7 linked regions of the Homo sapiens genome follow. The protein of the gene in region 1 purifies or fractionates together with the protein of each later gene. This does not show direct contact. Each region holds a gene or a part of one and is shown in the gene's direction. Other genes may lie near its edges.

Evidence for each region.
Region 2: the proteins of RIN3 (region 1) and COPA purify together in Homo sapiens (affinity purification with mass spectrometry; one large-scale study listed by BioGRID and IntAct). This does not show direct contact.
Region 3: the proteins of RIN3 (region 1) and RNASEH2A purify together in Homo sapiens (affinity purification with mass spectrometry; one large-scale study listed by BioGRID and IntAct). This does not show direct contact.
Region 4: the proteins of RIN3 (region 1) and IPO8 purify together in Homo sapiens (affinity purification with mass spectrometry; one large-scale study listed by BioGRID and IntAct). This does not show direct contact.
Region 5: the proteins of RIN3 (region 1) and HTATSF1 purify together in Homo sapiens (affinity purification with mass spectrometry; one large-scale study listed by BioGRID and IntAct). This does not show direct contact.
Region 6: the proteins of RIN3 (region 1) and ERI3 purify together in Homo sapiens (affinity purification with mass spectrometry; one large-scale study listed by BioGRID and IntAct). This does not show direct contact.
Region 7: the proteins of RIN3 (region 1) and TOMM70 purify together in Homo sapiens (affinity purification with mass spectrometry; one large-scale study listed by BioGRID and IntAct). This does not show direct contact.

What each region holds. Positions count from the first base shown.
Region 1 is NC_000014.9:92,687,138-92,689,494, forward strand, and holds the end of RIN3 (ras and Rab interactor 3), read left to right. Parts: intron 1-788; coding exon 789-1,115; 3' UTR 1,116-1,857; downstream 1,858-2,357. UniProt on the Homo sapiens protein: Ras effector protein that functions as a guanine nucleotide exchange (GEF) for RAB5B and RAB31, by exchanging bound GDP for free GTP. Required for normal RAB31 function.
Region 2 is NC_000001.11:160,294,751-160,298,250, reverse strand, and holds part of COPA (coatomer subunit alpha), read left to right. Parts: intron 1-505; coding exon 506-695; intron 696-812; coding exon 813-908; intron 909-2,101; coding exon 2,102-2,190; intron 2,191-2,391; coding exon 2,392-2,515; intron 2,516-3,393; coding exon 3,394-3,483; intron 3,484-3,500. UniProt on the Homo sapiens protein: The coatomer is a cytosolic protein complex that binds to dilysine motifs and reversibly associates with Golgi non-clathrin-coated vesicles, which further mediate biosynthetic protein transport from the ER, via the Golgi up to the trans Golgi network.
Region 3 is NC_000019.10:12,811,862-12,814,140, forward strand, and holds the end of RNASEH2A (ribonuclease H2 subunit A), read left to right. Parts: intron 1-1,221; coding exon 1,222-1,345; intron 1,346-1,466; coding exon 1,467-1,605; 3' UTR 1,606-1,779; downstream 1,780-2,279. UniProt on the Homo sapiens protein: Catalytic subunit of RNase HII, an endonuclease that specifically degrades the RNA of RNA:DNA hybrids. Participates in DNA replication, possibly by mediating the removal of lagging-strand Okazaki fragment RNA primers during DNA replication.
Region 4 is NC_000012.12:30,668,370-30,671,869, reverse strand, and holds part of IPO8 (importin-8), read left to right. Parts: intron 1-773; coding exon 774-908; intron 909-2,587; coding exon 2,588-2,687; intron 2,688-3,500. UniProt on the Homo sapiens protein: Involved in nuclear protein import, either by acting as autonomous nuclear transport receptor or as an adapter-like protein in association with the importin-beta subunit KPNB1.
Region 5 is NC_000023.11:136,504,092-136,507,591, forward strand, and holds part of HTATSF1 (17S U2 SnRNP complex component HTATSF1), read left to right. Parts: intron 1-272; coding exon 273-372; intron 373-3,500. UniProt on the Homo sapiens protein: Component of the 17S U2 SnRNP complex of the spliceosome, a large ribonucleoprotein complex that removes introns from transcribed pre-mRNAs.
Region 6 is NC_000001.11:44,320,758-44,324,257, reverse strand, and holds part of ERI3 (ERI1 exoribonuclease 3), read left to right. Parts: intron 1-3,500.
Region 7 is NC_000003.12:100,370,090-100,373,589, reverse strand, and holds part of TOMM70 (mitochondrial import receptor subunit TOM70), read left to right. Parts: coding exon 1-52; intron 53-867; coding exon 868-984; intron 985-3,500. UniProt on the Homo sapiens protein: Acts as a receptor of the preprotein translocase complex of the outer mitochondrial membrane (TOM complex). Recognizes and mediates the translocation of mitochondrial preproteins from the cytosol into the mitochondria in a chaperone dependent manner.

The sequences.
Region 1 (2,357 bases):
GGAGCTTCCAGCGCCTGCTCGCCCATTTATGGGAGGCGGGCGCTATCCCCACTTTACAGCCGGGGCTCGACGAATCAAGGCCACACAGGCAGTGGGAGCAAAGGCAAAGCCCGGCAGGTGTGGGGCTGGGTCCCTAGGGGTGGAGGACGGCGGGCGGGCGCCCTGCTCGTGCTGCGAGTGCCCAGCCCCAGCCCGCAGGCGTCGCCTCGCCTTGCCCGCCCTGCTCATGCCGGGCCTTCCCCACCCGACTGCGCCCAGCCTCCTTCACCCGGTCCCCTCCCGCTTTACCAATCCCTGCCCCACGCAGCTCCTCAGAGCCCCAGGGCTCTTGCAGCCCTAAGGGGCTGGACTGTGTTGCCCGCCCGCACTATGGGATGCCCGGGCGGGCTCGCACCTCCCTTCTTATCTGTGCTGCCCTCCGTGCCCAGCATTGCGCCTGGGGTGCAGGGAACTCACCTGGAGGGAGGGAGGGAGGGAATGAATGAATGAATGAATGATGGGGAGCCTGTGGACCAGCAGCCAGGGGACGCGCCGGCTCCTCTTTGCAGGGACTCCGAGACGCGCCTTAATTCATCTCCCAGAACTGTCGGCCCAGCTGGGAAGCCAGGCAGGGAGGGGGACGGGCCCCCCGCAGGCTCGCGGCAGAGACGGGAAAGGCGCAGGTGCCGGACTCGCAGACAGCTTGGCGCCCGCCACCCGCTATCCATCCAGGGAGGGGCCTGGGCCGGGAGAGGGCGCCTGAGGAGACAGGGCCCCGCCGTGACCACAGGCCCCTCGCGTCTCCGCAGGACTTCATCTGCGTGTCGTACCTGGAGCCCGAGCAGCAGGCGCGGACGCTGGCGTCGCGGGCGGACACCCAGGCCCAGGCGCTGTGCGCGCAGTGCGCGGAGAAGTTCGCGGTGGAGCGGCCGCAGGCGCACCGGCTGTTCGTGCTGGTGGACGGGCGCTGCTTCCAGCTGGCGGACGACGCGCTGCCGCACTGCATCAAGGGCTACCTGCTGCGCAGCGAGCCCAAGCGCGACTTCCACTTTGTCTACCGGCCCCTGGACGGTGGTGGCGGCGGCGGCGGCGGGAGCCCGCCCTGCCTGGTGGTGCGGGAGCCCAACTTCCTGTGAGGCCCTCCCGGGGCGCCTCCCCTCACCCCCAGGCGCACGTCTGGCCCCGCCTCTGGCTGCGCACTCCCGACCGCGACGTCCACGCAGCAGAGGGACATGGGCCATTCCATGACGTGCCCAGGCCAACGTCGCAGGACAGTTGTGAAAATAACATGACGCTCGTCCAAGGCCACTTCCTGAGGGCAAGTCCTAATAGCCCTGAGACACCGAGACGGCATGTTCTTCATTAGACGGAAAGGGAAACTGAGGCTCAGGAGAGAGGCGCTCCAGGCCGCTGCAGCCAACAAACCGGCGCCCTCTTCACACGTAGCTCCTCAGGCCATTCCCCATGAGTCCCCCACACCCACCCCATCCTCGGTCTTTGCAAAGAAGGGCCCGAGCTTAGTTTCCCCAGGACTGGCCTAGGAAGGAGCACCGGCCACAGCTGCTCCCCGTGCCACTCAGGGTGGACCCAGCATCTCAGGAGCACCTCAGGGTGTCGGTTAAGAGACAGGCCTCCACCCCTGCACCAGAGCCTGCTCTTAGCTCCCGGTGCCCCCAGACCCCGCAGCTCTGTGCCCGGCAAGAAGCAGCTAGACACACGCCAGGGCGCCAAGCACGGCCAGCTCCGCGGACCCATGGACAAGCCCAGCCCCGCCTCAGGGAAAACAGGGCCTTTCCCTACAGGACACGCCCCAGAGCTGTGGCAGATTGCAGGAGCCATCGTGTGGGGAGAATTTAATAAAAGCCCTTTTGAAAATGACATCTTTTCTGAAGGGGCTGGAGCTCTGCACAGCCAGCCCCGCATTCACAGCCTCACCTCCTTCCCGGGTGGCTTCAGAAGACCCCCTCTTTGCCATGGGGATCCTGTCCTCTGCCAGAACCTGTGGCATACTCTCAGCCACCCTCAGCACCCTCAGCCCTTGGGACCCTGGCCCCTGTCGGCCCGTCAGCCTCCCACCATCCTTGGCTCCCGTCATCCCCAGCTTAGGATCAGAACCATCTGTCACCTCTCCCAGGGATACCATTGCCTGTAGTATTTGCCTGGTCAACTCCTATCCAACCTCCTCCAGGAAGCTTTTTTTTTTTTTTTTTTTTTTTTTTTTAAGACGGGGTCTCATCTTGTTCTGCTGCCCTGGAGGGAGTACAGTTGTGTGATCAGGGCTCACTGCAGCCTCCATCTCCTGGGCTCAGGAAGTCCTCCCACCTCAGCCCCCCAAGTAGCTGGGACTACAGGCTGGTGCCACCACACCTGGCTAATTT
Region 2 (3,500 bases), on another chromosome or scaffold:
TTTCCATCTCTGTATCCAAAGGGGTCCTATGTGTTCACTGGATTTTCTTTTTTTTTTTTTCTTTTTTTTGAGGCGGAGTCTCGCTCTTGTTGCCCAGGCTGGAGTGCAATGGCATGATCTCGGCTCACTGCAACCTCCGCCTCCTGGGTCCAAGCGATTCTCCTGCCTCAGCTTCCCGAGTAGGTGGGACTACAGGCGTGCACCATGATTCCCAGCTAATTTTTTTTGTATTTTTAGTAGAGACAGGGTTTCACCATGTTGGCCAGGATGGTCTCGAGCTCTTGACCTCGGGATCCGCCTGCCTTGGCCTCCCAAAGTGCTGGGATTACAGATGTGAGCCACCGCACCCAGCCGATTTTCAATGGAATTAGACTAAAAGCTAGGAGTAATTGAAAGTATAGGAAGTTCTTCAGGAAATCTATATAGATGCAGATGCTTTGCAGAGTCCTTGGTTTTGAGTCACATTGTCCTTCAACCTGTTAACACGACCCTGGGGATTCTTTAGATTGCTCTGGAAGCAGCCAAAGCACTGGATGACAAGAACTGCTGGGAAAAGCTGGGAGAAGTGGCCCTGCTGCAGGGGAACCACCAGATTGTGGAAATGTGCTATCAGCGTACCAAAAACTTTGACAAACTTTCCTTCCTGTATCTTATCACTGGCAACTTAGAAAAACTTCGCAAGATGATGAAGATTGGTGAGGCCCTCAAACTAAGGATGGGAAGAGGGGTTCTTGGGGGAAGGAGGAAGGTGAATTAAGGAGAAAGAGAACTTAAGAGAAAAGACCTAACTTGGTGTCTCTTACTTGGTGCAGCTGAGATCAGAAAGGACATGAGTGGCCACTATCAGAATGCCCTATACCTGGGTGATGTGTCAGAGCGTGTGCGGATCCTGAAGAACTGTGGACAGAGTAAGTATCCGAGACTTGCCAGCTTTTTCAGGGTCTGAGGAAGTATTTTTCTGTTTTTGTTGAGTTAATCTGTGTATAGTGGTGAGGGATTTCTCTTTATTGTGCATTTTTTTAGGAGAGACAACATGCTCCTACTGTGCTTAGAAGATTTTCTTCAAAGCCAAAGGGAGGTGCAGCCAGAATATTCAGTCCAGCCAAACACCCTTAGGAGAATAGTTATTCATGGGGGAGATAGGAGGTTTTAAAAGGTCTTGAGTGGACGCCCTAGTAAATGCACTTGGTTGGATGCCATTAGAATTTTATTCTTTATTTTCAGTTTGGAGGTTTCACTCATTTATTCATGTATATAGTCAAGGGATATTTTTTGAGAACCCACTATATACCAAGCATTATATTAGCATTTAAGATACATTAGGAAACAAGCAAGGTGAAAGATGAGGTTTGGACCAAGGCGCTATTAGTGGAGGGGTGAGCAGTGGTCAGATTCAGGATATATTTTAAGGTAGAAACAACATGATTTATTGCGGTAACTAGATTTGAGATGTAACAGAGAGGAGTCAGGGATATCCAAGGTTCTCAGCACGGATGGATACGTCTCAAAGATAAGCAGCTATATTAGTTCTCTATTTCTGTGTAACAAATTATCCCCAAATTTAGTAGTTTAAAACCACAAACATTTATTATTTCACAATTTGTGGCATGGCTTAGCTAGGTGCCTCCGGCTTAGGATCTCTCATGAGGCTACAGTCAAAGTGTTGGCCAGAACTGCAGATATCTGAAGACTCACCGGGGAGAGAATCTACTTCTGCACTCACTCAATGGCCATTGGCAGCCCCCATGTCCTTGCTCCCTGTTGTCTAAGAAACATCACTTTCTTTTCGTGTTGACCTCTCCATAGGAGTTTGTAACGTGGTAGCTAGTTTCCCTTACAGCAAGTGAGCAAAAGAGGGCACCCCAAGATAGAAGCCACAATCTTTGTAACCAGATCTAGGAAGTAACATCCCATCACATCTGCCATGTTCCATCCATTAGAAGCTATTTAATAAATCCAGCCCACACTTAAGAGGTGGGTATTTTGCAACAACTTGAATACCAGGAGTCAGGGATTACTGGGGGGCCATTTCAGAGGTTGCTTACCACAGCAGCATGCATTTGGAAATGTACCTATACCACAAAGTCTGTTTTCTCTACAGAGTCCCTGGCCTATCTCACAGCTGCTACCCATGGCTTAGATGAAGAAGCTGAGAGCCTAAAGGAGACATTTGACCCAGAGAAGGAGACAGTGAGTCTTTATTTACATAATTGTCTCTTATTACAGGATTAACTCTAGGATCTTAGAACAATTTAAAATTATGAATGTCACTCTCCCACCTGGTTACCAGGAGAGGCAGAGAAACAAATGAGATCAAAGGAGGCTCCATAACTTTCCTTACGTGACTTCCAAGTGCTATTTGTTTTTAGCCTCTTTTCTTCTACTATTCAGATCCCAGACATTGACCCTAATGCCAAGCTGCTCCAGCCACCTGCACCTATCATGCCATTGGATACCAATTGGCCTTTATTGACTGTATCCAAAGGATTTTTTGAAGGCACCATTGCCAGCAAAGGTAAGTACCTATTTCTCCCATAGCACTTTTGTTGTTTGTTTTGTGAAGAACTGTCCTAGAGAATACCATTAGCATTTAGTTTAACTTGTCCTTTTTTTCTGCATGGAGCCTAATGGAATATTGAAATGCCAGTCATTTATGGTGCAGTCTTAAAAACTTAAGATAGCATTTTCAGGTCATTAAAGAAAATTTGGAAAATAGGGAGAAAAAAAGGGATCCCTCTACTACCATCAATAACTTCGGTTAATATTTTGGTGTATTTTCTTAGGTTTTACTATATATGTAGTCATGTTCTTTGTTCAGTATTTTATCATTCATGACATACAATCTTAAAGGTACTAATTCAACTACCTGTAATTCCGGTATGTGGGTATAGGCAGATGTGTGCTATCACCCTCCACCACTTCCACCCTTAACCTCCTCCTGTTTTCTGGGTCTCCTAGTTCATTTCCCGTGAGTAAGAGCCTAAACAGACTCTTGAGCATTTTGTGCCAAACCCCACTCTTTTCTCCACCTCCTCTATCTACCCTATGCCTGATGCCCTGTACACATTGTAGTGGTGGTAGCTTAGCAAAGCGCTCAGGAAGAAATTCAAGAGTTGGTAGCCAAAGGCTGGTAAGTACAAATTATTTAAGAGCCAGTTTTTGGTAGCAGGAAGGCCAGTTCCTTCCATCTGTCTTCTATTCCCTCCCTCTGTGAAAGCTACTGCAAGTTAGCATAACATATATACCACAAAAATAAATAATACACAAAAATAAATAGTAAGTAGGCAGAAGCTTGGCACCTGTTTTTGAAAGGATTTAACCTGCCTACAGAAAAGGCCGTATCTCAGACTTGCTGGACTATAACCAGTTCCGTTCTGTTCCTTCCCTCTGTAGGGAAGGGAGGAGCACTGGCTGCTGACATTGACATTGACACTGTTGGTACAGAGGGCTGGGGAGAGGATGCAGAGCTGCAGTTGGATGAAGGTAAAAGTGCTGTTTTA
Region 3 (2,279 bases), on another chromosome or scaffold:
AGCCGAGATCGCATAATTGCACTCCAGCCTGGGAAATGAGCAAAATTCCATCTCAAAATAATAATAATAATAATAATAATAATATTTAATGACAGGCTGGGCCAGGTGGCTCATGCCCGTAATCCTAGCATTTTAAGAGACAGAGGCAGGTAGATCATGTGAACTCAGGAATTCACAACCAGCCTGGGCAATATGACAAGACCCCATCTCTACAAAAAATACAAAAATTAGGTGTGGTGGTGCGCACCTGTAGTCCCAGCTACTTGGGAGGCTGAGGTGAGAGGATGGCTTGAGCCTGGGAGGCAGAGGTTGCATTGAGCTGTGATAATGTCACTGCACTCCAGCCTGGGTAATAGAGCGAGACCCTATCTCAAAAAAATAAAAAGGCTGGGTGTGGTGTTTACACCTGTAATCCCAGCACTTTGGGAGGCTGAGGTGGGTGGATCACCTGAGGTCAGGAGTTTGAGACCAGCCTGCCTGTCCAATATGGTGAAACCCCGTCTCTACTAAAAATACAAAAATTAGCCAGGTATGGTGGTGGGTGGCTGTAGTCCCAGCTACTTGGGAGGCTGAGGCAGGAGAATCGCTTGAACCTGGGAGGCGGAGGTTGCAGTGAGCCGAGATCGCACCATTGCACTACAGCCTGGGTGACAGAGCAAGACTCCATTTCAAAAAATAAGTAAATAAAATAAAAATGTTTAATGACTTGTTCTTGGAGGTCAAGGAGATGTCTCAGAGGCAGTCTCCCTGCACTGCCCTTTTAGCAGCTCTTGGCCAGGTAAAGGTCCTGTGGCAAGAAGGTGCTTCAGACCATAGGAGGTGCCCCAGGTACTCAGGAGGAAGCCTTAGAAGAGCGGCAAGGAGGCCGGGCGTGGTGGCTCATGCCTGTAATCCCAGCACTTTGGGAGGCCGAGGGGGGTAGATCACGAGGTCAAGCAATTGAGACCATCCTGGCCAACATGGTGAAACCTCGTCACTACTAAAAACACAAAATTTAGCTGGGCATGGTGGCATGCGCCTGTAGTCCCAGCTACTTGGGAGGCTGAGGCAGGAGAATCGCTTGAATCCGGGAGGTGGAGGTTGCAGTGAGCTGAGATCGCGCCACTGCACTCCAGCCTGGCTACAGAGTGGGACTCCATCTCAAAGAAAAAAAAAAGAGTGGCAGGGAGCTTGAATGTTATGGTGCAACTTGGACTGTCACCATTGCCCACCCTACCCCAGATCCCAAGACAAAAGCGTGGTTGAAGGAGCACGTGGAGCCTGTGTTCGGCTTCCCCCAGTTTGTCCGGTTCAGCTGGCGCACGGCCCAGACCATCCTGGAGAAAGAGGCGGAAGATGTTATATGGTGGGTGTCATGGATGTCCTGGGGGTGCTATAGGGAAGGAAGGAGGGAGGCCAGCGTTCAGCCCTGCCTGAGAGGGTTGCTCCCTGTGTAAGTGGTCACTGTCATCACCTCTCTCCCACAGGGAGGACTCAGCATCCGAGAATCAGGAGGGACTCAGGAAGATCACATCCTACTTCCTCAATGAAGGGTCCCAAGCCCGTCCCCGTTCTTCCCACCGATATTTCCTGGAACGCGGCCTGGAGTCAGCAACCAGCCTCTAGCAGCTGCCTCTACGCGCTCTACCTGCTTCCCCAACCCAGACATTAAAATTGTTTAAGGAGAACCACACGTAGGGGATGTACTTTTGGGACAGAAGCAAGGTGGGAGTGTGCTCTGCAGCCGGGTCCAGCTACTTCCTTTTGGAACCTTAAATAGAATGGGTGTTGGTTGATTAATTTTATTTGGTTTGATTTTTTTCATTTTTAAATTTTATTTATTTTATTTTATTTTATTTTATTTTTTTGAGAGACGAAGTCTCACTCTGTCACCCAGGCTGGAGTAGAATGGGGCAATCTCAGCTCACTGCAACCTCTGCCTTCCAGGTTCAAGCGATTCTCCTGCCTCAATTTCCCAAGCAGCTGGGACTATAGGCGTGTGCCATGCCCAACTAATTTTTTTTTTTTTTTGAGACACAGTCTCCTGTTGCCCAGGCTGGAGTACCATGGCACAATCTTGGCTCACTGCAACCTCCACCTCCCTGGTTCAAGCAATTCCCCTGCCTCAGCCTCCTGAGTAGCTGGGATTACAGGTGCACACCACCACACCCGGCTAATTTTCTTTTCTTTTCTTTCTTTCTTTTTTTTTTAATTTGAGACAGAGTCTCACTTTGTCACCAGGCTGGAGTGCAGTGATGCAATTTTGGCTCACTGCAACCTCTGCCTCCTGGGTTCAAGCG
Region 4 (3,500 bases), on another chromosome or scaffold:
GTTAATTTAAATTTTTTCAGGGGGCTAATCAGTTATGCCAATACTATTTTTTGAACAACTTTTCTCTTCTAATTTGAAGAAGTCTTTATGAAATAAAGAAACATCTTTGTGCTGTCTCTTGTTGTATGGAAGTTTTTAATGTTTCTTTAGTCAGATCTGTTATTGTAATTTTTTTTTTTTTTTTTTTTTTTTTTTGAGGCAGAGTCTCGCTCTATCACCCAGGGCTGGAGTGCAGTGGCGCGATCTCGGCTCACTGCAAGCTCCGCCTCCGGGGTTCATGCCATTCTCCTGCCTCAGCCTCCCCAGTAGCTGGGACTACAGGCACCCGCCACCACGCCCGGCTAATTTTTTTGTGTTTTCAGTAGAGACGGGGTTTCACCGTGTTAGCCAGGATGCTCTCGTTCTCCTGACCTCGTGATCCGCCCGCCTCGGCCTCCCAAAGTGCTGGGATTACAGGCTTGAGCCACCGTGCCCGGCTCCTGTTATTGTAATTTTTTAAACAGGAGTTTTAACTTACTTTGAAGAGCTAGCAGTGGAATAGAAATTTAGACTTTGCCTGGAAGTTACAATGAGACACCGTTTAGTTCAATATAACATGGACCTATCTAATAATTAAAGCTGTTTATCTGAGCTTTCTTACAAAACATTGATTTTTCTCCCAAATCTGTTTATTTTTCTATGGATTCTGAATTTTAGGTCATGCCAAAAATGGCACCTCCCCCTTTTAACCTTATAATTGTTTATGTTAGTCTGTATTTTCTGTTTTCTTATAGGTGCTACTAAAAATTTTAGATCAATATAGACAGAAAGAATATGTAGCTCCCCGTGTTCTTCAGCAAGCATTCAACTATCTCAACCAAGGGGTGGTTCATTCTATAACCTGGAAGCAGATGAAGCCACACATACAGGTTAGTGTCAGAGAGCAGCTCTCCAAAATTATTCTCTGGTTAAATTAGGTTTTCTAGACAAAGTTAGTATTACTAATCCTATATTTTACATTTTATATATATACATTTTACCATTAATAATTTCTAATGAGTGAAGTCCTATGTCAGATATAAAGGGCTTAGAAATTTAAGCATTTGAGAAAAGTGAAGCCTTCAAGTTTTATGAGTCGGGAGACCTGGATTCACTTGATCTTGCTTAATCTCATTAAGCCTCATTTTCTCCTCTATTAAGGCACATAGTGTTTTTCTATTCTTATCTAAAAGTTGCTAGGATTAAATGAGGTATTTTGTGAGAAAGTATTTTGAAAACTTACCAGGGCTCTACTAAGGTAGTGTTATTTTGCAGGAATTGAAGACTGATATGTGACCGTTTTATTTTGTAGGTATGAGCAAGGTTTTTATTTATTTTCTTGGATTGTTAAGTTCAATAGCATCATTGTTTCTATATCGTTTGCCTAAAGGTAGAATTCAGTATTGTTATTTAGCTAAAGAACAAATGGGAATGGAAAATTATAGGCCACTAATAAATAAATACTTCCTTGTATACAAATAATTGGATAATTTGACAGTCTTAGGAACTGAATACCTACTCTCTCCCAAACTGTGAATTCTTAAATTTTATAAATGATATCTGAAAAGAAAAATCTTTCACTTTGCTGTTTGCTGTCCAGGATAGAATTTTAGTGTTATTACCCGTCTTACCAACAGATATCTTTTCTTTGATTTATGTAGATATCTTAATAACTATTTGCCTAATCACTTTGATCAAATAGTGATAATTTCTTTGCAATTAATTAATAAAGATACTGATTTCATTTGCTGTGTTCCTGTAAAGTAAGGGTGAGTTGTGATAACATTTCTTCTCTACTTCATACCTTTGGCTTTATTTTTACATAGCTGTAAAGTAGGAATAAGAAAACGCTGATCCTTAGGCTGAATTTTTTCACTTAGAATTATTTAATTTGGAATTAAGTGGTAAGAGATGATCCTGTTTTTATATAAATTGTTGTTAGAGCCTAAAAGGGCTTAATAGGACATTAGTAGCAGTGCACAGAGAGGCTAGTAGATAGGACTTTTCTCTAACTGAAACATTTGTGGAGTAGGAAATTAGTTTTTTTGGGAATAGAAGTAAAGAAAATTCCAATTTTTTTTTTTTGGAGCTGGAGTCTCACTCTGTTGCACAGGCTGGACTGCAGTGGCATGATCATGGCTCACTGCAGCCCTGAGCTCCTAGGCTCAAGAGACCCTCCAAGATGGACGCCACCATGCTTGGCTACGTTTTTATGTATTTTTTTGGAGATGGGGTCTCGCTACAGTGCCCAGGCTGGTCTTGAACTCCTGTCCTCAAGCGATCCTTCTGCCCTTGGGCTTCCAAAGAGGTAGGATTACAGACATGAGTCACCATGCCTGGCCCTTTAATATTGTTAATACATGGACATTTAGGACTAAAATGGAAATGTTAAAAAAAATTTCAAAATAAGAACTATAATAGTAAATATAACCTCGACTTGACATTTTACACACACACAGAGTTTGGAAAACTAACATCATAAAGGCTGTCAACAAGTACATTATTAGTATTCCTCAAACTTGAATAGCCTATACCCATTTGTTACGTTTTTTTTTTTTTCTCATTTTAGAATATCTCTGAAGATGTGATTTTTTCTGTGATGTGTTATAAAGATGAGGATGAAGAGCTGTGGCAAGAAGATCCATATGAGTATATAAGGATGAAATTTGGTAATTGAGATGGTTTTATTTCTCATCAGTTCCTGGATATGTAAAGTAATATAACTAAATTTATATTTTTAAGCAAATGTTATTACTTTATTAAATCTCCCAGGTTCTGTTTTGCATGACATAATCTGAAACTTTGAGAGTTTGATGTTATTTTGTTGAACTAGAGAACTGGAGATTGTCGGATGTGGGAGATGAAAAGCCACCTCATTCATCTCTCTTACGGGTGCTCAAGTTGAGCCATCTGTTACTTATGCTGTTGCGATGCTGATCTGCAGGGACCATCCGTTTTTGTGCCTTTTGGGAGACTCATTTATAGATTGGGTTGTTCTCATGTGGGAAATACTTTGGATTTCTGCATATTTTAGGGGTACCCCAATTTGGTTTGCTTGCTTGTCTGAGAGACTAAGTGTTCCACAAGGGAAATAAATTTCGTATGGGGGCCCTACTGTGTGTGGTCCAATTCTTTGGGTGTCCTTTTAACTTGGATCTTCCTGGAAACTGTTGAATTGTGTAGGTGGCCTGATTTATTCCCTTTTATTCCCAGTTTGTATTAATTGCTTCATGGAACACTCAAGCACTTAACATAGCAAAATATTAATTTGCATACCTATCTCCCACAACTTAGAAGCTTTCTCAGGACAGGAATTTTACCTTATTTGCTTAATTTTGCATTTTCTGTCTCTTCTACACCTCTGCATTCCTCCACTAGTGCTTGGCCTCCAGTATGCCTTCAATACATGTTGAAAGAAATGATTGCTAAATCTAGCGCTGCGTGCTGAAAGTGCTGTAATGAAGCAGTGCTTTCCCCTTAGT
Region 5 (3,500 bases), on another chromosome or scaffold:
AACTCCTGGCCTCAAGTGATCCGCCCGCCTCGGCCTCCCAAAGTGCTGGGATTATAGGTATGAGCCACCGCACACGGCCCCCTGCCCATTATTTTTATTTCAGAAAGTTTTCTGACTGGAACTATGACTGAAATACAGTTTGTTGTTGTAAAATCCAGTAATTATCTTTATTAAATACTCAGTAAAGTATTGTATGAACAACTCATTCTTTTCTCTCTCCAACAAGTCTGAAGCAAAATTTACAGTTTGTTGTTACTGCTTCATTGCCTCAGGCAGTTGGATTGGAGACCTGAGAGGCGAGCCGGACCATCCCGGATGCGCCATGAGCGAGTTGTCATCATCAAGAATATGTTTCATCCTATGGATTTTGAGGTAGGAAGTGGTGTGCTTACTGATAGAAATGCTGATAGGCTTTTTTTCTCTCAAGGGAGCCTGGAGCTTGCCTCGCCTCATCTTTGTCTTGTCACCTCCTACGTGTTTGTGCAGCGAGTAGTAAAGGAAGATGGAGCCAAGAAGCTACTTAAGTCTTTTGATTTCCCTTCCCTTTGTTTAGCCCAGTATTGTTTTAAAGTGTATCACAGATAAGACTGTTTAATAACCATACTGCGCCCCAAGCAGCAGCTACTTGGTATGGGAAACCATTGAAAAATATCATCATCAAAAGATTTATGGGAACTGCTTGTGGATTTTCAGTGCAAGCCAACAAGTATGGCCTGATTTTGGTGGGGAGTACCAGCTTCACAATTGTAAATGCAAACTTCAGTTTGGTACTAAAAGTTATAATATTTAATGTCCGTGGAAAATTCCAAGAACAGCAAGTAAAAGTGAATAAGTACATCTGTTATGTATCAACTTTTTTAAGTGATTTTAAAAAAAGTTAATGGAACTGTCCTTCCTCCCCTCAAAAAAGTGAATAAAGGAGAAGCAAAGAACAAGGAGTTCTGAGGAATATTGTCATCAAAGTACCTTGTGTTACATTCTGCCTGTATTCTTATCTCTGTCTACTGGTGTAGACTGACTTTATTGTTGTGGAGAAACAACTCTTTATTCTCTCCCTGGTTCTGAAATTAGTGATAGCAAGTTATACAGAAAGCAGGTTATACAGATAGCAAGTTATACAGAGAAAAATGTTCATAACGTAAAATTCCGTTTTTACCAATAATCTAGTTGTAAATTAGTGCCCATTCCTGACCCTTTTGTGCATTTAAACAGTCAAAATGGTAATATAATTGTAGCTCCCTTAGAGAGGGCCCCAAAATGGACAGTTCAGCTCTATCTCAATGAATAGTGTTGTGATAAGGTTTACTGTGTACCTATGGAGTTTGGGCATCTTTTGAGGTCATTGGAAATATACGTCTGGTTTATTTATGAGATTGATTGATATCTCTTCTGACTAGAAATCTGGAAGAATTTTGAAATATAACAGTTTACAGTTTTACAGTTGCAGTGATAATGAAGTATGGTTTATAAACACGTGCACACCAGATGCATTTTGAAATACTGTTTTTGCCAGCAATAACTTTAAAATGAATGCATAGAATTACAAAAATATTAGCTGGGCATGGTGGCGCATACCTGTAATCCCAGCTACTCAGGAGGCTGATTCAGGAGAATCACCTGAACCCGGTAGGCAGAGGTTATGGTAAGATCGCGCCACTGCACTCCAGCCTGGGCAACGGAGCGAGACTCCATCTCAAAACAAAACAAAATAAAACAAAACAAAGAACCAGATCATAGTCATTAAAGCAGCATATAAAATAAATGCACAGATTGATCACAATATTTAGTCTGCTAAATACAACTCCGGGATTTCCTATTATTTATTACATTTTATCCCCCTGCTAAATAAGTGATTTATTAGGTGACATATTTATTTCTGTGACTCGAGGTCTTTGATTCACACATTTCATACTCCTGCCACCCAAGTGTGAATGTAAATGCAAACCTAATTCAAACTATCTGGAACCTCTGCAAGTAGAAGTCTGTTGTGTAATTTTAATCTATTCTTGTTTCTACCTCCTGCCTTGCTCATTGAAATACCTTATTTGAGTCTAAGGATCACCCCAGGCAGACTTAGCTCTTCCCAGCTTAACAAATATTCTTTCCCCAAAACCACATTTATTCTACCTTGACCCCTATACATTCCCTCCAGTGAATATTTTTAAAGATAGAAGTTTCATGCTTGCAAATTCCTGATTTTTTTTTTAATCTTCTTGGTTTAGTATAAACATTACTTTGGAGTTACAGAGCCTTTATACTACCCTATTTTGTTTCCTTCATAGCATTTATTATTATCTGAAGTAATTTTGACTCGTCTACTAGAATGTGAGCTCCATGACACCCAGTATTTTGTCTACCTTGTTTGCTGCTGTATTCTCAGTACATAGAATTTGCCTGGCACACAGTTGGCCCTTAATATTTATGTGATGAAGAATTGAAAGAATTGCTAAATGAAACCCTTGTTATTTACAAGCCAGAGTCTTTTCATTCAGCCAGTGGATAAAACATTTTCTCTTCAGCATCTTTGCAAATGAAAGCAAATTTTCTTCTTAGATGCTTATTCCACAAAGGATGGTGGGACATTGTCTTGGCCGTGGCGGAATTAGTTCACAAAGAAATGCTTGGTGATGCTATCCTTGTTTGCCCACCTTCCTGGCCTCACATGGTCCAACTAGCTTGCTGAGAGCGTGTCAACAAGAAGAGTGACAAATAATCTTGCTTTTGTTCACTGTCTCTGAGCACCTGAACCTCAGTGTAGACCTGTGCTGTCAGATATGGTAGACTGTAGCCATGTGTGGTTAAATGTAAGTTAATTAAAATGAAATAAAATTCAGTTCATCGCTTCTACTAGGCACATGTAGCTAGTAGCTACCATATTGGATAATGCAGATATACAACATTTTCATTATCACAGAACCTTCTATTGGACAACACTGGTATAGACATTATATAACTTTTGATAGAAGTGTCCAACAGGAAAACCTGCTTTTATTGCATGTTTTGGGGGAGTGTTTGATTTGACTCAAGACTCCATATGAACCTAAAGAACACACAGCAGCATTGAGCTTTTTAGTGGAAAACAAAAACTGAATTGTCAGGTTATCCTGAGATATCTGAAAGGAGTCAGATTTTGGGTGGAGGGGTATATTTTGATTCCAAACAGTTAGAAGCAACATACCTAAGAATACTGTCTGATCTGAAGGCTAACATTTTTAATGTAACTTCAGAGGGTCTTCAGTATTTAATTCAAATCCTTACTTTAAAATGCATTGCCTGGCAAATTTGAATACCAGGACATGAAGAGTCAAAACTCAAATGCATTAGCCGGGCATGATAGCACGCACCTGTAATCCCAGCTACTTGGAAGGCTGAGGCACGAGGATCACTTGAATCCGGGAGGCAGAGGCTGCAGTGAGCCAAGATCGCGCCACTGCACTCCAGCCTGGGCAACAGAGTAAGACTCTGTCTTCAAAAAAAAAAAAGAAAGAAAGCAAAGCACT
Region 6 (3,500 bases), on another chromosome or scaffold:
TGATTCTGCGGAGAGTTTTGTGTCTTCTGGTACAGCTAGGCCTTTGGCTTGTCTCCTCCACTTAGCAGCCCTTTCATGTGATTACACAACAAAAGTTGAGAGAGTGAAGCCTGTGTGCCAGCATAGGAATTAGGTGCTGGAGATCACACTGAAGGCACATGGTTCCTGCCTTCCCTGATGCCATCTGTGCCATCTGTGTTACTGCAGCCATGGTGGAGTCTTTTCAGTAGCAAACTCTAGAACTTTTCTGCCTGGAGAGTCCACATTCATTGCTCTTAAAATTTGAGAGCAGCCTCTCTTTCTAGATGGTAGACTTGAGTTCTCTACAGGATAGCCTTTTAGACTAAGAGAACCAGATCTTTCTTGACCCTTCATATTTTGAAAGCTGCTAGTCCTACTCTTAAGTCTCATTCTCATTTTCCCATTTTGGAGTTCCAGCTCTGTCCCTCACAAGCAGTGTAAGTGTCAGCAAGTGAGTTAACATCTTTGGGCCTTAGTTTATTTGTGAAATAGGGATGACTATGATTCCCACCTCATGAGTTAGGAGGATTAAATGAGATCATTCCTATTAGCACAGTATCTGCCACGTAGTAAACAATAAATGGAATAAAACGATTGCATTTTCCACATGTCTTGGAGAGCACTGGAGGCCAGCTCCTCTTCACCCTTTGCCCAGACTTGAGCATCTCAGAGAGAGGAGCCACCTTTCATTGTATTCATCTCTGTGTCTACAGCCAGCCCCTGCCTGGTGAATAGTAGATGCTTAATAGTATTGATTTATGACCTGAAGATGGTGATGGTGATGATGATGTAACCTGTCTGCCAGGATTAAGGAGGGTAAAATAAGAAAATGTATGTGAAACTACACTTTTGTGAATGGAAAAACAACACTGTGTACGTCCCTCCACTAAGGTATTTATCACAGTGTACTGTTCTTTGTTTGCCTATCTTTTCCACTCATAGTCCATGTGCTTCTCCAAAGTGGAGACTACATCTTATCTCTAGTCCTGCTCCAGCCCCTGTCTGATAGCCTACACAAAGTAGGCACTCAGGTAGTTTAATTGAATGCAAATGGCATACAAAGGCAAAGAATTGTAAAGCTATTATTAGGATAGGGAAAGAGGGCTGGTAAATACGACTGGTCCTTCCTTCCTTCCTGGTGCTACTTTTACACAAAACTGTTTCTGAAATAAACCTCTTCCTAGGGGAATGATGAAATTGGCTGAGAGAAAAGGTCAGGGTCAGGAATAACAGTTTCATTATCTGAGCAACTGGACATAGAGGCTGGCACTTGGGCACATTGTCACAAATCTTTGTGTTGGGATTAATGCCACTAACCTGTAGTGTTGGGGTTCCATCTCTGATCATTATCAGCTAAAAATCTTCAAAATGTTTGTCATGCTTCAGGTGCCCTGGCTGCAGAGTTGTGCCAACTTGGTGCAGATTGGGGCACCTCTCCCACTACTGGGCTGTTTGGGCCAGTATTTTGAGGTTCTGGGAAGTATGGAAGTACTGGCTGGGCAATATGGGATGGTAAGAAGTACCTCAGTGAGGTCCTTGCTGCTCTAATTTCTCAGAGAGTCTTTTCTCAGAAGCTTCTCTTTTGCATCCTCAGTAGCTCAAGTGAATATGCCAGTGTGTAGGCTCATTGTTAATAACAGCTCCTCATGTTGTGGAGGAAGGGCCCCTGCAAAGTCACGTTTTGAGACTGGTGCTTGAAACCACCTCTTCTTGGTCTTGGGGAGAAGGCTTGGCTGATGAGCTAGCATTATCAGAGATATGTTTATAATAGGCCCAATTTGATGTGTCCTGAGCCTTGGGTGTAGGCACCCTGGGAATTTCAGGGGCCTACCCCCCTCCTTTTTTTTTTTTTTGCGTGGATCCGAGTCTGGCTTGTTCTTCCTCTCTGGGAGCATGGCACTGAGTTTCAGCACGTAGTTGGCCCCATTTCCCTATGGGTGAGGAAGCTAACATCAGGAAAGTTTGAATATTGAGCTACAGTATTTGCTGTTATTTGCTGCAATGCGGAAACCCAAAGGCCAAGTTTCCAGAGAGTCTGCTGGGGATGTTGACTTGGTGCTGGTCAGAGTGGAAGCTGAAGCACATACTATTTTATAATAAATACTAATGAAATCCTAGATCTATAATAGCATTTCGGATATCTAAAACAAACCATGTGCTTGTAAAAAAGTGGAAAGAGATCAACTTTAAGCCATAAATTCTTGGTAATAGAGGGTTTTTTTCTATTAATGTTTGATAGATATTTTTATTTCCAGAGGAATGTCAACTCCTAATTTCATAATGTATCATGGGCTTAAGAAAATTGAATTTAATAAAAAGCCAAAGATGAATGGCATCCTTAAAGGTCCCAACACTTGTCTTTATTAGCAGGACAAACTGTAGGTCTCCAAACACTGCTGCTCTCCAAATGAAAGTTTAAATGAAAAGTACAGTTGTGTCACAGGTTAAATTTCATTGTGGGCCCAGCTAACATTGTTAGTGAGGAGCTGGCTGTATTTGTTTCCTTAGACACCAGGGCAGCCATACTCACCAGGCTATAGAGCTCTTTCTGTTGAGGAAGTGTTTCTTCTACTTAGGGGAAGAGGAAGGACACATCGGAAAAATCAGGAGTCAGATGAGCCTGATTCATGGGCAACACCTCAGAGTTGGCTCTTGGAATCCTGGATACCTGATTTTGCAGGGGGACCAATGTGTATTTTTTTGGTGTGTGTTCGATTTTGTTATTCAGTTCCAAACCCCCATTTACTCTGTATGTAATGCTTCTTGGGGAACAGAAGGTCCAGGGAATTGGGAAATGAGTGTCCCCCTCTCTTCACCTTGGAAGGAGAGGTATTACCTGGTCTAAGCAGCAGTCTGGGCCTCCCTTCTCTCCCCTCTGCCTCAGCCTTGCAGCCATTTTGCCCTTTCTATCTCTGGGAATAAGCTCCTGTCAGCTTCCTCATCTTTGGAGATCAGCCCACGGAGACAAGGCAACCACAATCTTTGAATCTCTCTGGCATGAAGTCTGACTGACTTGATTTGGTTTTCGGTCCTGATGTGTTGGATTGAAATAGATGCTTTAAAAACAAGCCCAATATTAGTGGGTATGTTTTGCCGGGAGGATACCTGGCTTTCCTGGGACATCAAGGAGATTGACCATTTCTCCTTGTGTTTTCCCACCCATCAATTTCCTAAGTGCAGTCAGGTGTCATCCGTTTCGTGTTGCTTCTCCAGGCTGTCTCTGGAGAGAACCACTTTACCTTGATTTTAATGATACTGGAAAGGTCTTCTCCAGAATGAAGGACCTGGGGAAGGGGTGCTGCTGGAGCTGACTATTAGGGTCACTGAATAGGCAGAGCCCCCTTCCTTTCTCTCTGCAGTGGAGGCCCTTTCCACATGCTAATTTTACTCAGAGAATTTTGCTTTTATTTATTTTTTTTATTATTTCCTATTTGTCTCTTCCAGATGTTTTCAGGGCAGTTTTTTTTTGTGTTGTAAAC
Region 7 (3,500 bases), on another chromosome or scaffold:
TAGGTTAAGACCTGAGTCTGCTCTGGCACAAGCACAGAAATGTTTTGCATTGGTAGGTACTACTTTCTTTTGTATTTTCCTAAACATCACTTTTATTTTCCAGCGTCAACAAAAATGAGTATCTCATTGTCTACAAAGTCGTCTTTTTCTTTCTTTCCCAAAGGATAACTACTGAGGAAAAAAGGTGCTGATTGATACCTAGCTCTTGTATTTCTCTGGACATTTGTTTGGGTTCATCTTGATAGATGTTTGTCCCTGATTTTATACTTCCCTAAACAGAACTGGTCTCCCTGCTTCATCATAAATCAATATAAAGAGCAAAAACATTTTGAGGAAACACTCTGTAAACATGACACCATGTAACTTGCTCTCTCACCCCTGCTTCATAGAACTGTTTCTTAATATTCAGAAACACAAAGCTCAAAAGGTTGTTTTTTTTTTTTTTTTAAGTAAAAATTTTTCTAGTAAAATAAGATACTTCCAGTTAGCTGTATGGCTGGAGTCGTAAAAGAATTTTCAGTTTAAAGGAAGAAATTATGTCACAAATATATATTATAAATGAAAATGACAAAAATTTTACTAGATTTAAAATTCATTTATTGCAAAGTTCACTTCTTACAAATTAGTATGCCCTCTTCTACAGTATTGAACATCTTGAAATTGTATAGTGGCCATGGAGTCCTAGTTGTACATAACCTTTGGCTCTCTGCTGCTGAGATACCTACTTGGAACCCTTTTGGATGCTGCAGATTATGTTAGCAAATCACCTGTTTTTTTGGAAATATTTATGTAATTTTGTGTGTTTATGTTAACATTCCATGAGTTTTTGAGTTCTTGATTTGACAGGCCTGTTTTGATTTTTTATAGTACCGCCAGGCATATACGGGAAACAACTCTTCACAAATCCAAGCAGCTATGAAAGGTTTTGAAGAGGTCATAAAGAAATTTCCAAGGTGTGCCGAAGGCTATGCACTATACGCCCAGGTAAATGTTTTTTCAGGTTTTTTAAAAATAACTGCATACATATGCCAAATCTCAGTATGGAAATCAGAAAACAGTGCTATCATGGTTGCAGCTTCTTTGGAAGCAGGTGGCTTTGTTCCTGATTGATTCTCATGGCCCCTGGTTGGTCCCGAATCACCTCAGAAGAGGCTCCTTTGTTACACAATTTGGAAATCATGGCCCTAAACTCAATATGGGGAAGCTTAAGGCGAGAATTTCCCTCCTGTCTTCATTTGGATTGGTTTTGCAAAAAGTAATTACCTTAGGAAAATTTACCGTATGCAATTGGTGGAGAAAATATCCACGGAAAGGCTTTTCTTTCTATCTGGTCACTGCCTTTTTATATGGCTAGGTTGTTGTAACGGTTTATTTTAATTTATCTTTGCTTTATCTAAAATTCCTGAAACTCTCTTGGTTTAGGATTGAAGCTATGGAAAGCAGGATTTAAATCTGAATTTTTTTATTGTAGTCTGAAATTCTTGAAAACTTCTTAGTTTTAAATCATCCATTTAAATGAAAATGATTAGCTTCTTGTAGTGACGGTCATACATTTTCCCCTCAAATAAAAGATCTCTGAATGACTCAGTTTTCTTTCTTAAAGCTGAAAATTGGTTTTGGTGTCTACATAAACTAGCCATCTCAATACTCTATATCAGGGGTACAGCTGCTTTGTGGCCTCTTAGGAATGGGGCTGCACAGCAGGTGAGCCTTGGGCAAGCATCACCACCTGAGCTCCACCTCCTGTCACTGTCAAATCTGCAGCAGCATTAGATTCTCATGCCTGATGATCTGAGGTGGAACAGTTTCATCCCAAAACCATCCCTCCTCCTCCTACCCCCATCCATGCAAAAATTGTCTTCCACAAAACCAATCCGTGGTGCCAAAAGTGCTGGGAAGGTGTTGGGGACTGCTGCTCTATGTAATTTATTTTTCTTTTTTTTTCTCTTTTTAATTACAAAAGACATGTTGGGTTTTTCCCCACAGCACAGAAATAGGAAACGATAACAAATTACTATCCCCTGGCTGGGTGTGGTGGCTCCTGCCTGCAATCCCAGCACTTTGGGAGGCTGAGGCAGGCGGATCACTTGAGCCAGGAGTTTTGAGACTAGCCTGGCCAGCATGGAGAAACCCCATCTCTACTAAAAATACAAAAATTAGCTGGGTGTGGTTTGGCGCACACCTGTTATCCCAGCAACTCGGGAGGCTGAGGTAGGAGAATCGCTTGAACCCAGGAGGCGGAGGTTGCAGTGAGCTGAGATCACACTACCACACTCCAGCCTGGGCAAGAGTGAGACTCCATTTCCAAAAAAAAAAAAAAAAAAAAAAAATACCATCGCTGGTTGACCCCTCTCCTTAAACCATTCTTAAGGATGCTTATTTTGTTTTTAATTTCCTTCATGGTATCTGTAGGCAGGTTATAAGAACAATTTCACAAGGATTTTAAGGGTTTATTGAGGGTGGAACTATGAGAAAATTGATTTGTGTTGGATCTGTTCTTTAGAGGTAGGTCTTATATATAACTACATTAAAGTGTACATTTTAATCCTATGAATGGGTACACTTGAGTTTATGCCTTATAATTAGTAACAAACCAGGAAATGACAGCAACATCCTCATCATTGTCATGGAATTCAGAAGGGCTTTTTTGGTGCAGATTTCTCTAAGCATCTAGAAGAGCAAAGGCCACCGAATAGGAACCACTACTGGGGAACAACTCCTCTGCAGAACTTTCCCAATAGCATATTTCCCTATTACCATTCTGCCTTCAAGATAGGTTTGGTTTGTATGAGCTGTCTTCTCATCAGCATTAGCATTATTACAGTCAGTTTGCACTCAAATTTCTTTTCTTTGGTCTGTTTTCTAATTTTAGCTTCACTATATAGTATATGTAACTTTATATATGCATACAGTACGTGTGTGTGTATGTGTATGTGTATATATATATACTTAGTGTAACTTTTTTGGCCCTCAAAGCTTTGGCGTAGATGCTGGCCAACTCGCAAAGTTACAGCTTGAGCATAGTCTGATATCCACAGAACTGTGCCTTCCATTTCAGCCGTGGGATTTGTCTTAAAAAGTTGATTATAGCTGCTGCTTTTGTTTTCAAAATAAGTATTTATTACATTATTGTTAACTATGACAAACAATTGGGGAAAATCCTAAATGTTAACAGAAAATTGAATTATGTTTGCAGAATTGTGGTACACTCACTTAATGGTATATTATGCAGCCATTAAAAGTTACAAATACATTAAAGTTACAAAGCAAGATACAGCACTGCCTATTATTAAAGGGAGAATTGCATACAAAATGAACTCAACCATGTGAAAGAAAACAAATAGGGAAGTAAATAGAGATAGAAAAATATATCAGGAAGGCATCCATGCTCACAATGATGGAAGCTATAAAAATATTTCTACTTTCTATATCTTTCTGATTTTTATTATAAAGAAGATGTGCTGGCTACATTTCTTTGATATTTTTAAGAGCGATTTTTA